2 separate regions of the Homo sapiens genome follow, and region 1 is linked to region 2. The links come from fine-mapping of genetic effects on gene expression. A gene starts in region 2. The other region holds a variant in brackets. All regions are shown on one strand. Distances are between the middles of the regions.

Region 1 (8,279 bases), 52 kb before region 2:
GGCAGAATCTCCGTATAAGCCAGTACTCTCCTCAGGCTTTAACGACCAGAGCCCAGTTTCTCCTTTAAACAACCCCTCACTCAAGCTCCGGCCAGTCCCAGCCTCAGCATCAGCGCTGATCCCATCTCTGCCGAGCTTCGCTTAGGTCTCGCAGAAAACAACAGTTTTATTTATTTATTTATTTATTTTTTTGACGGAGTCTCGCTCTGTTGCCCAGGCTGGAGTGCAATGGCACGATGTCGGCTCACTGCAACCTCCGCCTCCTGGGTTCAAGCGATTCTCCTGCCTCAGCTTCCCGAGTAGCTGTAATTACAGGCGCGCGCCACCATGCCCGGCTAATTTTTGTATTTTTAGTAGAGACGAGGTTTCACCAGGCTGGTCTTGAACTCCTGACCTCAAGTGATCCGCCCGCCTCGGCCTCCCAAAGTGCTGGGAACACAGGCGTGCACCAGCCAGGCCAAAACAGCAGGTTCTATTCCTCTTTCTGCTTAGCGCTCTCTCCGACTAACCTGGCCCTCGGCCTGCCCCTCTAGACTACCAAATCCAGTTTGCTTCTCGCTGCTTAAGGCCAATCACCTGTAGACTCTCCTTCAGCTGCGGGATGAGCATCTTATAACGCTGCACAGGATCGAAGTCCTGTTGCTGTTGCTGCAGGAGGCCGCTCTGGGCAGGGCCCACCAGTTGTGCTGGCGGTTGCGGCTGCTGCTGGGGACCCGGGCCGCCAGCCGAACTAGGACCCGATACACCAGCAGCTGAGGAAGCCGCTGAAGCTTGCTGCTGGGATGCAGCCATCTTCCTCGCGTAGACCGCCGGAAGTGCGTTACGACTGCGTCTCTCCCCGTTGCTTTTCAGCATCCCTATTTCTAGTCCCCGTTTGCTAGTTAGTCCCGCCCCCTAGGCAATTAAGCCAATGGAGGGGAAGGAGGTGCCCCAACGTTACGTCACTCTCAAATCTGCGTCCAGACTGAGATATCTCTCCACCAATCACAGAAGCACCTCTCTCCCTCGCTCCGCCCTTCACCCAGACGCTCGCCAATCCGTGTGTGGTTCCGAGCCGGACTTCATTTCCCCGAAGGCGTCGCGGCCTGAGGAGACCCGTTGGGTCCTCAGCGTCTTGGCGGCAGTTGGTGGAACCGGAGCTTCGAGTCCGTCCCCGGTGCTGCCTGCGCGTTCACCTGAGTCTCGCTGGAGCTCTTCTCGCCCGCCCACCTCATCTCAACCCACTTTCCGCGGGGAGCGGCGCCAAGCTGGGCCTTCCTCGGATCAGGCGTCCCCTGAAGTCGGCACGCCCCTCTGCGTCCCCCTTCGGTCCCGCTAGGACCCCGTCCGGGCTGCCGTCGCCTCGTCGCTATGGCGCCCACCATCCAGACCCAGGCCCAGCGGGAGGATGGCCACAGGTAGGCGCCACGCTTTTCTGTTGCAGCAAGGCGGGGGATCGGGAGAGGGTTTCTGCTGAACAACGTCACCAGCCCCCAGGTCTGCCCGTGACGTCATGAAGCGCTCACCTTTGACGAAGGGGGCGGGTTCCTTCTGAGATTCAGGTGTTCCCCTCCTCCCCGCCGTGCAGTTCAGGGATTAGGCTTTTGGAGACTCCCTCCAGAAGGGATCCCTCCAGTCAACCGTTTGGAGACCCCTCTTCCGAAGACGATTGAGTACATGGTTCTTTATTAAAGCACTTGAAGCCATCTCCTGCAAAAGGGATTGAGCACTTGGCCTTGTTCATTAAAGCTTTTGGGGGCATTTCTTCCTAAATAAATTGAACATTTGTCTCCTTCCATTAAAGCATTTGGACACTCCCCACACCACCACCCAAAGAAACCAGCATTTGTCACCCCTCCTACCTTTTGAAAGGTTGGGGAAGCCTTTTTCATTCTCCTGTCAATCCCGTCCTCTCCACCTATCACTGTTTCTTTCTTCTCCACTAGGCCCAATTCCCACCGGACTCTGCCTGAGAGGTGAGCCCCACTGTGCTTTCCCAGGAGCGGTGGGGCAGTGGGGCTGGGAGCAGAGGTGGGGCAGCGGGGGCCCACTTTTGAGCCACTAATGTTCCTAGGTCTGGAGTGGTCTGCCGAGTCAAGTACTGCAATAGCCTCCCTGATATCCCCTTCGACCCCAAGTTCATCACCTACCCCTTCGACCAGAACAGGTGAGACTAAGGAATGGGAAAACTACTCAGGTATGAGTTCCTTGAAGGCAGGGACTGCTTGTCTCGTTGGCTGCTGTCTGCTCAGGGCCTAGCACAGTACCTACCCTAGCACATAGTAGTAGCTGCTCAATTGTTAATGGAGCAAGCAGTGTCCAAGTCCCTTCCCACTGGGGAGCCAGCTTTCAGACTCTGCCATGGGGGACACTTCATTCTGAGTTCCTCCCCAGAGAAGCTCCGCCTCTGGGAAGCAGGGCTGTGAGGGGTGAAGCTGGAATCCAAACACCACAATAGGTGTTTCCCCACCCAGGTTCGTCCAGTACAAAGCCACTTCCTTGGAGAAACAGCACAAACATGACCTCCTGACTGAGCCAGACCTGGGGGTCACCATCGATCTCATCAATCCTGACACCTACCGCATCGACCCCAATGGTGTGTGGGGAGACAGGGAGGGTCTGCTCTAGGTCAGCAAAGGCTCAGGCCTGGGCCTCCCTCATGGTCCTCCTGCCCCCCGCTCTCCTCTAGTTCTTCTAGATCCAGCTGATGAGAAACTTTTGGAAGAGGAGATTCAGGCCCCCACCAGCTCCAAGAGGTGAGTGGGTAGCAAATGGGTACTGGAGACTGGCTCAGGTGGGCCCTACAAGCAGGAGGGCAGTGGGGTCCTGAGATACCTGATTTCCCACCCCAGATCCCAGCAGCACGCGAAGGTGGTGCCATGGATGCGAAAGACAGAGTACATCTCCACTGAGTTCAACCGTTATGGCATCTCCAATGAGAAGCCTGAGGTCAAGTAAGTTACTAACAGGAAGAGAGGGAAGGTGGAGATATTAGGTGTGTCCAGTGGCCCCTAAGGACCTTTTTCTTCATTCCTAGGATTGGGGTTTCTGTGAAGCAGCAGTTTACCGAGGAAGAAATATACAAAGACAGGGATAGCCAGATCACAGCCATTGAGAAGACTTTTGAGGATGCCCAGAAATCAGTAATTGAGGGACTGGGATGGGGAGAGGCAAGGGTGCGGCTGCAGAGCTCCTCCTCACCTTGTTTTTGT[T/C]CCACCAGATCTCACAGCATTACAGCAAACCCCGAGTCACACCGGTGGAGGTCATGCCTGTCTTCCCAGACTTTAAGGTCAGGCCCAAGGTGGGAGGTAGAAAGGGACAGCCTATTTGTGCCTGTTCCCATCTAACCCCAGTGCCTCCATCTCCCTAGATGTGGATCAATCCATGTGCTCAGGTGATCTTTGACTCAGACCCAGCCCCCAAGGACACGAGTGGTGCAGCTGCGTTGGAGATGATGTCTCAGGCCATGATTAGGTAGGTGGTCCTGCTGTCCACCTTGGCCTGCTCCTTGCTGCCTCTTGTCCTCACACTTCATTGCTACTCCTTTTCCCCCAACCAGGGGCATGATGGATGAGGAAGGGAACCAGTTTGTGGCCTATTTCCTGCCTGTAGAAGAGACGTTGAAGAAACGAAAGCGGGACCAGGAGGAGGAGATGGACTATGCACCAGATGATGTGTGCGTGGGTTGCGGTTAAGTTTTGGGGATTGGGAAGTTTTGGGGATTGGGATAGGGAAGAAATGGGGCTGAACCTGTGCCCTCATCTTCAGGTATGACTACAAAATTGCTCGGGAGTACAACTGGAACGTGAAGAACAAAGCTAGCAAGGGCTATGAGGAAAACTACTTCTTCATCTTCCGAGAGGGTGACGGGGTTTACTACAATGAGTTGGAAACCAGGTACTCAGCACACTCCTATCTGATTAGCCTGGATCTGTGCTTCTTAAGACCCTGGGGCATGCAAGAGCCACCTTGGAGGTCATTTGTACCTAAGAATTTGTCATATGCATTGGTAAACAAGAGCAGCAGATGTCTGGTCATGCACATGAGCTGGACTTGGTTCTAACAGGAGGAGCCAGAAAAAAAATCTTTTTTTTTGAGATGGAGTCTCGCTCTGTTGCCCAGGCCAGAGTGCAGTGGTGTGATCTCAGCCCACTGCAACCTCCGCTTCCTGGGTTCAAGTGATTCTCCTGCCTCAGCCTCCTGAGTAGCTGGCATCACAGGCGTGTGCCAGCATGGCCAGCTAATTTTTTTTGTATTTTTAATAGAGATGGGGTTTCACCATGCTGGCCAGGCTGGTCTTGAACTCCTGACCTCAGGTGATCTGCCTGCCTCGGCCTCCCAAAGTGCTGGGATTACAGGTGTGAGCCACCACGCCCAGCCAGAATATCTTAATGCAGGAGACATTTAGAGCCTTTGCGCAAGGCAGAGGGCCAAGTTTCCCAGTATTAGTAACAGACTTCATGTGAAAGTAAACATTGCCAAAGTATGGAGTAATATATAAAATTAGCATGAATGTTTTAAATGAAATGCTTAAACCCATGTTCAAAAATGTGACTCCAAAACTCTTCCCTTATGGCTCAAAGTTTACTGCTATGCCAGCACCTCTGGTGTAGAGTTGGGAAGTCTTGAGTTTCTGTTTAAAGCAGAGATTACAAGAACTGTGACCCCATAGGCCAGGCAGGAAATGTAAAAGAGCAGTGGCTGGTAGCATCTGAGTGACCTGGAGTTCTGGGCAACCATGGAGGGCACTATTCACTTCCAGCCCACTGTTGCTGTGCTGTGGGGCCAGAAATTCCTATCTTCCAAAAGCCCCAAATCCAAATGATTTGACATCTCCTGGTTTCTCAAAGTGTTGGTAACTAACTGACACATACAGTAATGCACTGCATGTTTCAGTCAACAATGGACTGCTTATGGTGGTCCCTTAAGATAGAATACCGTATCTTTACTATACCTTTTCTATGTTTAGATACACAAATACTTACTATTGTATTACAATTGCCTGCAGTATTCAGTACAGTCACATGCTGTACAACCTTGTAGCCTAGGAGCAATAGGCTACACCATTACAGCCTAGGTATGTAGTAGGCTATACTATGTACGTTTGTGTAAGAGTACTGTATGATGTTCACATGATGTATATCTCAGAATGTGTCCCTGTTAAATGGCCCATGCCCGTATTTATGTAAATACACCGTATAACACACACACACAGTGTAGGGCAACCAAACTGGTGCCATGGGAGCCATCCTTCCTTTCCCCTGCCCTCAATACCTTGAGCTTAGCTGCCCTTATTCAATCTGTATTTATTCCCATTTACTCTAAGTATTGATGGGGAACCAAGTCAGACCAGACCCCTCACTGGGGGGCGGGGAAGTGGGAGGTGTGTCTTTAACTGCATCTTCCACTTCTCTCTCCCAAATTCACCCCCTGCAGGGTCCGCCTTAGTAAGCGCCGGGCCAAGGCTGGGGTTCAGTCAGGCACCAACGCCCTGCTTGTGGTCAAACATCGGGACATGAATGAGAAGGAACTGGAAGCTCAGGTAACAAGCACCACTGGCTCAGGGCACCCATGGCAGGGAGGGTGGTGGTTGTAGGTGAGGAGGGGGACAAAAACCCAGCAGAACACCCTCCTTCCCCTCATTCCAATCTTGCTGCTTCCAGGAGGCACGGAAGGCCCAGCTAGAAAACCACGAACCGGAGGAGGAAGAGGAAGAGGAGATGGAGACAGAAGAGAAAGAAGCTGGGGGCTCAGGTAAATCTGGACAGGCCAGACTCTGGGAGCCCTGGGAGGGTGGAAAAGTGGGTTTCATCTCTCTCCACTCCCTTCCAGATGAGGAGCAGGAGAAGGGCAGCAGCAGTGAGAAGGAGGGCAGTGAAGATGAGCACTCGGGCAGCGAGAGTGAACGGGAGGAAGGTGACAGGGACGAGGCCAGTGACAAGAGTGGCAGTGGTGAGGACGAGAGCAGCGAGGATGAGGCCCGGGCTGCCCGTGACAAAGAGGAGATCTTTGGCAGTGATGCTGATTCTGAGGACGATGCCGACTCTGATGATGAGGACAGAGGACAGGCCCAAGGTGGCAGTGACAATGATTCAGACAGCGGCAGCAATGGGGGTGGCCAGCGGAGCCGGAGCCACAGCCGCAGCGCCAGTCCCTTCCCCAGTGGCAGCGAGCACTCGGCCCAGGAGGATGGCAGTGAAGCTGCAGCTTCTGATTCCAGTGAAGCTGATAGTGACAGTGACTGAGTCCCAGGGCATTCAGGGCTGGTTCAGACACCATTATTGTGAGCAGCAAAGCACTTTTCTAGTGGTCTGTTTGTGAGCCTTTCACTTGTTTGTTCCCCACCCCCAAACCTTTGCTGTTAATAAAGTCAACTTCTCTTTACTTCCCCTCCCAGCCCCTATGATGTCATTCAGCCCAGCACATACCTCCCGCAACCCCCAGGTGCTCAAGGATCTTGGCTTGAGGCTTAGAAACACAGGCCAGAGGCAGGGCCAATGGTTTCCCACAAAATGTAGCACAACGAAGGTCAGAATTCGTTTTTTTTGTTTGTTTTTTTTTTTTCCAAAATAAGCCCAGACCATTAAACAAGTGAAACTCCAACAAATAAGTCTTCTCCAACAGCGAGAAAAACTGTACAGTTACTCAAAGCTGATTCTGCCAGTGGGGCCGGGGACAGAAGTGGGTAGGGAGGGTGAAATCATGGAGGAGGGCCTGGGGAGGGGGCTGGAGCGGGAGAGGGTCAGGGTCCTGCCCATCAGAGTGGGGCCGCCTGCGTCCTGCACACTCTGCTGTCAGGTGGGGTGGGGGGCAGCTCTTGCCTCCCTGTGTGTGTGAGACGGTGTCCCTCACCACCTCCCAGTGCCAGGCACAGTCAGCTCACCCTGATGGAGAGTGAACAAGACAGGACAGGCTGGGGAGAGGGGAGGGTCCCATGAGAGGGACACCCTGCTGATTCCAAACGAGGTGGCCCATCCATCCCACTTCCTGCAGCTAGTGGGAGGGGGACTGGAGAAGCCCTGGGAGATTGAGGGGATGAGCAAAGGCACAGAAACATGGAGGGCCGGGGTGGGGGACTTGCATAGGTTGATGAGTGTGCAAGAGGTACATAAATAAACCTGACACCCCACCCAGCCCGGCACTGGGAGAGGAAGTGGGGACCCAGAGCCAGGTTCCCAGGGCCACCCTACCCCCTGGCTTCTTCCCCCTCCCTGGGCTCAGAGCAGAGGGAAGTCCACAGACCAGGAGGGCGGGGGCAAGAAGGTCTGGGGAATGGGGTGATAGTGCAGGGAGGGTGGTGGTTTTAAAATTTTTTTTTTTTTTGTTTTTTTTGTTTTTTTCCCAACATTTTGTATCTTTAATAACATACACAATGGTTACCAGCCATATTCATAACAAAAGTTATTCATAAAATGTATCTAAAAATAACATTTTTTTTCCTTTTCGGTGTGAAAAGCTTGAGAATGTCCCAGTTGGGAAGGTGGGTTGAGGGGGAGGAGGGCGTTGAAGAGGGAGACCCTGGCTTCCCCGCAGTCTGAACCCCCAAATCCCCTCCCTCCACCTGGGCCCCAACACAACCCCTCATTAGGAATAGGGACCAGACAGTCTGTCGGACTCTGGGGCTGGGACGAATCTCTGGGTTATGATATAGTGTTCCACTTAAGTGAGGTCATGACATAATGGGGGAAGGAAAAAGGCTGAAAGAAAAGGGAGGGGCTTAGGGAAAAACCCAAAAACCAAACAATCCCCTTTCCCTTATTCCTGACTCCCAAGTCTCACCAACCAGACCTGGGAGCGGAGAAGGGTGTGTGTTCGTGGGGAAGGGGACGTTAAGGCAACAGACTTCCTGACCTCACTGGCTACCCTGGCTGCCCACCTCCAACCTCTTCATCCGGGTAGCCAGGGCTGGAGGAAAATGGGTTAGAGCTTGAGGGTCTGGAGGAGGGGGCTCTGCCCTCTCCCCTCATAAAGTTCAGGCTCTCCCTGCCACTGTCTTGGCTGAGAGAGACCTGGGGATTCTAAAAATGAGAGGAAATGATCAGAGAAAAACCGTTAAGAACTATATAAATATGTATCTTAAATAGGCCTAAGAAATTAATCATAGAGAACCTCTGGTGAACAGGGCCAGGGGAGGTGAGAGAGAGGAAGGTGGCTCCTGTCCTTGCAGAATGTGGGGAATGGTGAAGGGGAAGCAGGGAGAGGAGAGAGAGCTTCCTCTCCTTGCTCCCCTTCCTTCTCCCCAGCTCCTCTCAATAACATTCTGGAGGGCAGGTTCTCTGCCCTGCGCGTCACCCCAAATG
Region 2 (8,322 bases):
GTGAAACTCCGTCTCAAAAAAAAAACAAAAAAAAAACAAAAAGACTTACATTCTAGTTCTTGGGGACACAAACAATAAGGAAATACAGTGTAACTTCGTGATAAGTACCAAGGAGAAAAAGAAAGCAGTGGCTGGGCATGGTGACTCATGCCTGTAATCCCAGCACTTTGGGAGGCTGAGGCTGGTGGATCACTTGAGGCCAGGAGTTTGAGACCAGCCTGGCCAAAGTGGCAAAACCCTGTCTCTACTAAAAATGCCAAAAATTAACTGGGCATAGTGATGCGTGCCTGTAGTTCCAGCTACTCAGGAGGGTGAGGCAGGAGAATCACTTGAACCCAGGAGTCGGAGGTTGCAATAAGCCGAGATTTGCCATTGCACTCTAGCCCAGGTGACAGAGCGAGACTATGTCTCTAAATAAATAAACAAATAAATAACAAGAAAGCAGCTAAGGGAATGGAGTAATGCAGCCAGAATTAATTTACATGGGGAAAGGCCTCTTTCATTAGGTGAGACTGAAACAGAAATCTGAAGGAATGAAGGAGAAAGTGGGTTCCAGAAAGAGAAAACAGCAAGTGCAAAGGCCATGTAGTAGGATCATTCACAGAACCACAAAGGGGCCAGCATTGCTGGAGTGGAGTGAGCAAAAGAGGGCAGTGAAGGACAAGGTCCAAGAGGCAATGGGGTAGGGGTGGTGACAGATAACTTAGTATTTTAGTCATTGTTGGTGTGTGTGTGTGTGTGTGTGTGTGTGTGTGTGGGGGGGGGGGGCAGGGTCTCACTCTGTTGCCCAGACTGGATTGTAGTGGTGCGATCGCGGCTCACTGCAACCTCGGCTCACTGCAACCCCTGCCTCCTGGGTTCAAGTGATTCTCCTGCCTCAGCCTCTGGAGTAGCTGGAACTACAGCCGTATGCCATCAAACCTGGCTAAGTTTTGTATTTTTAGTAGAGATGGGGTTTCACCATGTTGCCCAGGCTGGTCTTGAACTCCTGGACTCAAGTGATCTGCCTGCCTCGGCCTCCCAAAGTGTTGGGATTACAGGCGTGAGCCACTGCGCCTGGCCTGCTGTTTGGTTTTTAGAGATAGGATCTTACTCTGTCACCTGGGCTGGAGTGCAGTGGTGTGATCCTAGCTCACTGCAGCCTCAAACTCCTGGGCTCAAGTGATCCTCCCAACCTCAGCCTCCCAAGTAGCTGGTACCTGGGATTACAGACACATGCCACCATGCCCGGCTACTTTTAAAATTTTTTTGTAGAGACAAGGTCTTGCTATGTTGCCCAGGCTGGTCTTGAACTCCTGGTCTCAAGCAATTCTCCTGCCTTGGCCTCCCAAAGTGCTGGGATTACAGGCATGAGCCACTGTGTCTGGCCCATGGGAGGGTTTGAGACCAGCCTGGCCAACATGGTAAAACCCTGTCTCTACTAAAAATACAAAAATATGGCTAGGCGCGGTGGCTCACACCTGTAATCCCAGCACTTTGGGAAGCTGAGGTGGGCTGATCACGAGGTCAGGAGTTCGAGACTAGCCTGACCAACATGGTGAAACCCCGTCTCTACTAGAAATACAAAAATTAGCTGGTTGTGGTGGCGCACACCTGTAATCCCAGCTACTCATGAGGCTGAGGCAGGAGAACTGCTTGAACCTGGGAGGTGGAGGTTGCAGTGAGCCGAGATTGTGCCACTGCACTCCAGCCTGGGTGACAGAGAGACACTCCATCTCAAGAAAAAAAAAAAAAAATTAGCCGGGTGTGGTGGCTCACGCCTGTAATCCCAGCTACTTGGGAGGCTGAAGTGAGAGAATCGCTTGAACCCAGGAGGCGGAGGTTGCGGTGAGCTGAGATGGTGCCACTGTACTCCAGCCTGGGTGACAGAGCGAGACCCCTGTCTCAAAAAAAAAAAAAAAGAAAAGAAAAAAAGAAAACCAGGCAAGTGTGGTGTCATGAAGACGATGTTTCAGGGAACAGGGAGTGATGGGCTGTGTCAGATGTGGCTGAGGAGGAGTGAGAATTGACCATTAGATCCAGCACCGTGGAGTGCATGGGTGACCTTGACAAGGGCATGTCAGCTGAGAGGAATACAGGTGAAAGGCTGATTGGAGAAGGCAGAAGAGAAAACTGGGAGGAGAAATTGGAGGCAGCAATGTAGATTATTCTTTTGAGAAATCTTTTTTTTTTTTTTGAGAAGGAGTCTCACTCTGTCACCCAGGCTAGAGTGCAGTGGCGCAATCTTGGCTCACTGCAAGCTCCGCCTCCTGGGTTCACGCCATTCTCCTGCCTCATCCTCCTGAGTAACTGGGACTACAGGCACCTGCCACCACGCCCGGCTAATTTTTTGTATTTTTAGTAGAGACGGGGTTTCACCTTGTTAGCCAGGATGGTCTCGATCTCCTGACCTCGTGATCCACCCGCCTTGGCCTCCCAAAGTGCTGGGATTACAGGCATGAGCCACCACGCCCGGCCTCTTTTGAGAAATCTTGCAGAAAAGGGAAGGAAATGAGTGAGCAGCAGCTGGACAGGAGATACAGTTTTATGTTTTTAAGATGGAAGAGGCCAGACACAGTGACTCACGCCTGTAATCCCTGCACACCAGGAGGCTGAGGCAGGAGGATCGCTTGAGGCCAGGAGTTTGAGGCCAGCCTGGGCCACATAGCGAGATCCTGTCTCTATAAAAATCAAAAGTAAAATTGGCCAGGCATGGTGTTGCGTGCCTATAGTCCCAGCTACCTAGGAGGCCAAGGTGGGAAGGTGGCTTGAGCCCAGGAGTTGGAGACTGCAGTGAGCCATGATTACACCGCTGCACTCCAGCCTGGGTAACAGAATGAGACCCTGTCTCAAAATAAAAGAAAAAAAGAAAAGAAAAAAATTAAGATGGAAGAAGTAACACTGCATGGAGGCTAAGGAGAAAGATCCAGGAGGCATGGGGACGTTGGTGAGACAAGAGGGAGAGAGAGGACAGCTGCAGAGATGTAGGTGAAGGGGTAGAGTCCAGTGTAGGGTCCGGGGTTTGCCCACCATGGAGGGAAGTGGGCCAGTCACAGTTGGCCTAGGACCCTGTGGAAATTGTCTTTTGTTTGCTTTTATCTTCTCACTGAAATACATATGGTTTTTGTGTGAACTACATTCCTTTTATTTCTTCTTTATATGACAGTCAGGACATTATATTGATTTTTTTTTGAATTTATGTGTGTAAGTAGGTTATATTATCTAGGAATTTTATTTCGGGATGGGAAAAGGGGGCAGTGCAAAAATACTCAATAAAAAAAATAGCCGGGCATGGTGGCTCACAGTGGCTCACACCTGGAATCCCAGCACTTTCGGAGGCTGAGGCAGGTGGATCATTTGAGGTCAGGAGTTCGAGACCAACATGGCCAACATGGTGAAACCCCATCTCTACTAAAAATACAAAAATTAGCCGGGCGTAGTGGCACGTGCCTGTAGTCCCAGCTACTTGGGAGGCTGAGGCCGGAGAATGGCTTGAACCTGGGAGGCGGAGGTTGCAGTGAGCTGAGATCGCACCACTGCACTCCAGCCTGGGCGACAGAGTGAGACCCTGTCTCAAAAAAAAAAAATTGGGTACCGGTCTGACGGGATTGAACTCCCTTGTTGTAGGGCCTCATAGGTCATTGCAAGGCTAGTGAGGTTGGAAAAGTGCAGGAAAAAAGTCACCATTACCCAGGCACTGTGGGGTTGCCCCTCTGGTCCCCATTTTGCCATTGACATAATGGGCGTCAGTCTGACCAGCAAAAGACTAAACTCCCCTTTTCCAGCCCTGCAATTCAAATATCCCAGATGGGGGTAAATCTAGGAAGGCCACCTGGAGGAGGGGAGGAGCAAAATAGTTCGTTTTTAGTACCTATTGTGTCTGCCATGCTGGCAGCTATGTGAAGCTATTTATTTATTTATTTTTATTTATTTGTATTTTTATTGCCTGGGATAGAGTGCAATGATGTGATCTTGGCTCACTGCAACCTCTGCTGCTCGGATTCAAGCAATTCTTGTGCCTCAGACTCCCGAGTAGCTGGGATCACAGGCGTGCACCACCATGCCAGGCTAATATTTTGTATTTTTAGTAGAGATGGGGTTTTGCCATGTTGGTCAGGCTGGTCTCCAACTCCTGACCTCAGGTGATCCGCCCGCCTCGGCCTCCCAAAGTGCTGGCATTACAGGTGTGAGCCACCATGCCCGGCCGATGTGAAGCTATTTATATCCTCACCACAATCTCAAATCAGAGGGGTGAAGTTACTTAGCTAGGGTCACACAGCAAGGAAGCTTTGGAACCCTGGTCTGAGCGATTTCCTGACAGGTCCTGGCAGATGAGGGGAAGGAAGGAGGGGGAGGAGCCCTCTGTGACAGTTGTCCCAGAAAGGGCATAAACAGGATGTGGTGTTGGATGAAACCTTCCTCCTACTGCACAGCCCGCCCCCCTACAGCCCCGGTCCCCACGCCTAGAAGACAGCGGAACTAAGAAAAGAAGAGGCCTGTGGACAGAACAATCATGGTCAGGGGCCAGGGGTTCTATGGGAAGAGCTGGGGCTGGGGTTGGGGCTGGGGCTTGGAGGACACCTGGGCGAAGGTCAGGCTATGGGATGGAGGTCACGGGCCGGGAAGGGGGCCCAACTGTGGTGAACAGCCCGGCTGGAAGAACAGAGAGACAGTGGCTCTGGGTTTAGGCTCAGGAAGTGGATCTCTGCACCTCCTTGAGTGTCCCCCAAGAGTCCCCGTGGAGAAGGCGGGAACCCAGCCTCTGCTCCGCCCCCCAAGCTGAGTGCCCTGGTGAGGGGTATCTACTCTGTGGGAAGGGTGCCTTTTCTCAATGTTCACAAAGGCATCAGATGGGCCGGCGCGATGCTCCTCTTCATTAGTGGATGGAGAAACAGGTTTGGGGAAGGGGTGAGGGCTGAGGCCAGGCCATTTCAGCTCTTCCTGGGTCCCTCCGGCAGTCTGACTCCCTGGTGGTGTGCGAGGTAGACCCAGAGCTAACAGAAAAGCTGAGGAAATTCCGCTTCCGAAAAGAGACAGACAATGCAGCCATCATAAGTGAGTGACATCTTCCCCCACAGAAGGATGGGAGGGCGGTGGTGAGGGCAGATAGGGAGGGCTGGGCTTGTGTCCCCCATGGATCAGGGGGAGTGTCTAATCCCTGTGTGCCACCCCTCCCCAGTGAAGGTGGACAAAGACCGGCAGATGGTGGTGCTGGAGGAAGAATTTCAGGTGATGGGCTGGGGTGATTGGGACTGGGAGGTACAGGGTGAGACTGGGAGAACCAAGTGGTTGGAACTGATATGAAGAGCCTGGCATGGGGGTAGAAAGACCTGGAGATTGGCCGAGCACAGTGGCTCATGCCTGTAATCCCAGCACTTTGGGAGGCCGAGGCAGGTGGATCACCTGAGGTTGGGAGTTCAAGACCAGCCTGGCAAACATGGTGAAACCCCATCTGTACTAAAAATATAAAAAGTTAGCTAGGCATGGTGGTGGGCACCTGTAATCACAGCTACTTGGGAGGCCGAGGCAGGAGAATCGCTGGAACCCGGGAGATGGAGGCTGTAGTGAGCCGAGATTGTGCCACTACACTTCAGTCTGAACCACAGAGCAAGACTCTGTCTCAAAAACAAAAACAAAAAACAAAAAAACAAAAAACCCTGGAGATCAAGTTCTAGCTCACTCATGACCCCCAGCAAGAGACTTTGCCTGTTTGTGTCTCTATTTCCTCATCTGTGAAATGGGGAGAATAGTACTTATCTCATAGGCTTGTTTTTACATCCAGTGATTTAATTCTTGTAATGGGTTTAGAACAAGGCCTGGCACTTAGTATGTGCTCAATAAGGTGATGATGATCTTAATAATGATGATAATAATGCTTTATTGGCATTTAAATGAAAGAGTTTCCATATAAGTTAAAAAGCTAGCCAGGCATGGTGGCTCATGCCTGTAATCCCAGCGCTTTGGGAGGCTGAGGCAGGAGGATCACTTGAGCCCAGGAGTTTAAGACCAGCCTGGGCAACATGGTAACACCCTAACTCTACTAAAAATACAAAAATTAGCCAAGCACAGTGGTGTGCACCTGTGATCTCAGCTACACAGGAGGCTGAGGTGGGAGGGTTGCTTGAGGCTGGGAGTTTTGAGACCAACCTGGGCAACAAAGCAAGACCCCATCTCGGCTGGGTGCCGTGGCTCACGCCTGTAATCTCAGCACTTTGGGAGGCTGAGGCGGGCGGATCACAAGGTCAGGAGATCGAGACCATCCTGGCTAACATGGTGAAACCCCGTCTCTACTAAAAATTCAAAAAATTAGCTGGGTGTGGTGGCGGGTGCCTGTAGTCCCAGCTACTCGGGAGGCTGAGGCAGGAGAATGGCGTGAACCCCGGAGGCGGAGCTTGCAGTGAGCCAAGATCGTGCCACTGCACTCCAGCCTGGGCGACAGACTCTGTCTCAAAAAAAAAAAAAAAAAAAAAAAGACTCCATCTCTACAAAAAAAAAAAAGGGGGTAGACCTCACCCCCCTGGTGGCCTCACTGTCTTTATCAATAACAAGAATGATAATAAGGCTTATTTCTCTAGTGTTGCGATAAGGATTTATAAGGGAATCCATGGAGACTGGGGGCTGGGGCTCTCTCAGGCCCTCTGAAAGGCAGTATAGTGAAGCAGTTATGATTCGAACCCAGATTCAAATCTCAACTCTGCTGCTTTCTATCTGTGCAATCTTGGGCAAATGCCTTAACACCTCTGGGCCTCAGTTTTCTCAGCTGTATAGTGGGCATAATGATGGGACCTACCCCACAGACTTACGGGATAGTTGCATGAATTAATCCATGTGTGTTTCATAGAACGATGCCTTGGCACATGGTAAGTGCTCACCTAAAGGTGGTCATTCTTTTTTTTTTTTTTTTTTTTGAGACGGAGTTTCGATCTTTTTTGCTCAGGCTGGAGTGCTATGGCACAATCTTGATTCACTGCAACCTCCGCCTCCCGGGTTCAAGCAATTCTCCTGCCTCAGCCTCCTGAACACGCCTGGCTAATTTTTTTGTTGGAAATGGAGTCTCACTCTGTCTCCCAGGCTGGAGTGCAGTGGCGCGATCTCGGCTCACTGCAACCTCTGCATCCCGGATTCAAGCAATTCTCCTGCCTCAGCCTCTCGAGTAGCTGGGACTACAGGTGCATGCCACCATGCCTGGCTAATTTTCTGTATTTTTAGTAGAGACGGGTTTCACCCTGTTAGCCAGGATGGTCTGAATGATTTCCTGACCTTGTGATCCGCCTGCCTCGGCCTCCCAAAGTGCTGGGATTACAGGTGTGAGCCACTGCGCCCTGCCTCATTCTTTGTCTTTTCTTCTGTTTTCTTGCCTCAGAACATTTCCCCAGAGGAGCTCAAAATGGAGTTGCCGGAGAGACAGCCCAGGTATCCTGGGGGAAGAAAGGGTTGGATCAGGCCATGAGGGGAGGGGTGATGTTGGAGGTATAGGCTAAGGGACTGCTGGAGTTCCAGCCCTATTCATGGACTTTGAATCTCTGTGTTTGGCCGAGTGAGGTGGCTCATCCCTGTAATCCCAGCACTTTGGGAGGTCAAGGAGGGTGGATCACTTGAGGTCAGGAGTTCAAGACTAGCCTGACCAACATGGTGAAATCCCGTCTCTACTAAAAATACAAAAATTAACTGGGCGTGGTGGCATGTGACTGTAATCCCAGCTACTTGGGAGGCTGAGGCACGAGAATCGCTTGAACCTGGCAGGCAGAGGCTGCAGTGAGCTGAGATCACACCACTGCACTCCAGCCTGGGTGACACAGCGAGACTCTATCTCAAAAAAAAAAAAAAAAAAAAGAATCTCTGTGTTTGAGGCCAAGAGTTCATACTCTAGAACTTTTTGTTTGTATAGCAATATTTTATTGCAGAATTTTATACCGATTATTTATGATACCGGTTTAAGAGTCTTTTTTTTTTTTTTGTACAAACTTTGTTGAGTTTTTGTTTCAACATTACGCTGGCATCATTTTTTAAAAATGAAATTTTGGCCAGGTACTATGACTCCCACCTGTAATCTCAGCCCTTTGGGAGCCTGAGGCGGGAGGATCACCTGAGGCCAGGAGTTCGAGACTAGCCTGGGCAACATAGCAAGACCTTGTCTCTATTTTTTTTTTTTTTTTGTTAGAGACAGAGTCTCGCTCTGTTGCCCAGGTTGGAGTGCAGTGGCGCGATCTTGACTCACTGCAACCTCCGCCTCCTGGGTTCAAGCGATTCTCTGGCCTCAGCCTCCTGAGTAGCTGGGATTACAGGGGCCCACCACCATGTCTGGATAATTTTTGTATTTTTAGTAGAGACATGTTGGCCAGG

What was found. PIP is the estimated chance that this variant, and not a neighbour inherited with it, causes the effect.
Region 1: its variant is fine-mapped to the expression of GMFG in whole blood (TOPMed, PIP above 0.99).

The regions. Positions count from the first base shown.
Region 1 is chr19:39,383,936-39,392,214 of GRCh38, reverse strand. SAMD4B (sterile alpha motif domain containing 4B) reads right to left here. Exons shown (of 14, transcript NM_001384574.2): 14 at 6,515-8,279. It overlaps PAF1 (PAF1 component of Paf1/RNA polymerase II complex), which reads left to right and starts at 1,109. Exons shown (of 14, transcript NM_019088.4): 1 at 1,109-1,397; 2 at 1,926-1,955; 3 at 2,054-2,146; 4 at 2,454-2,575; 5 at 2,669-2,735; 6 at 2,832-2,933; 7 at 3,017-3,122; 8 at 3,200-3,268; 9 at 3,350-3,453; 10 at 3,539-3,655; 11 at 3,748-3,876; 12 at 5,416-5,521; 13 at 5,643-5,733; 14 at 5,812-6,586. The coding sequence starts at 1,351. The coding sequence ends at 6,224. It overlaps MED29 (mediator complex subunit 29), which reads right to left and starts at 837. Exons shown (of 4, transcript NM_017592.4): 1 at 577-837. The coding sequence starts at 792. RefSeq lists an enhancer at 493-782 and a silencer at 2,320-2,451. The variant T/C (reference allele first, on the strand shown) is at 3,192.
Region 2 is chr19:39,332,147-39,340,468 of GRCh38, reverse strand. GMFG (glia maturation factor gamma) reads left to right here and starts at 4,426. Exons shown (of 7, transcript NM_004877.4): 1 at 4,426-4,495; 2 at 4,938-5,034; 3 at 5,159-5,208; 4 at 7,343-7,392. The coding sequence starts at 4,493.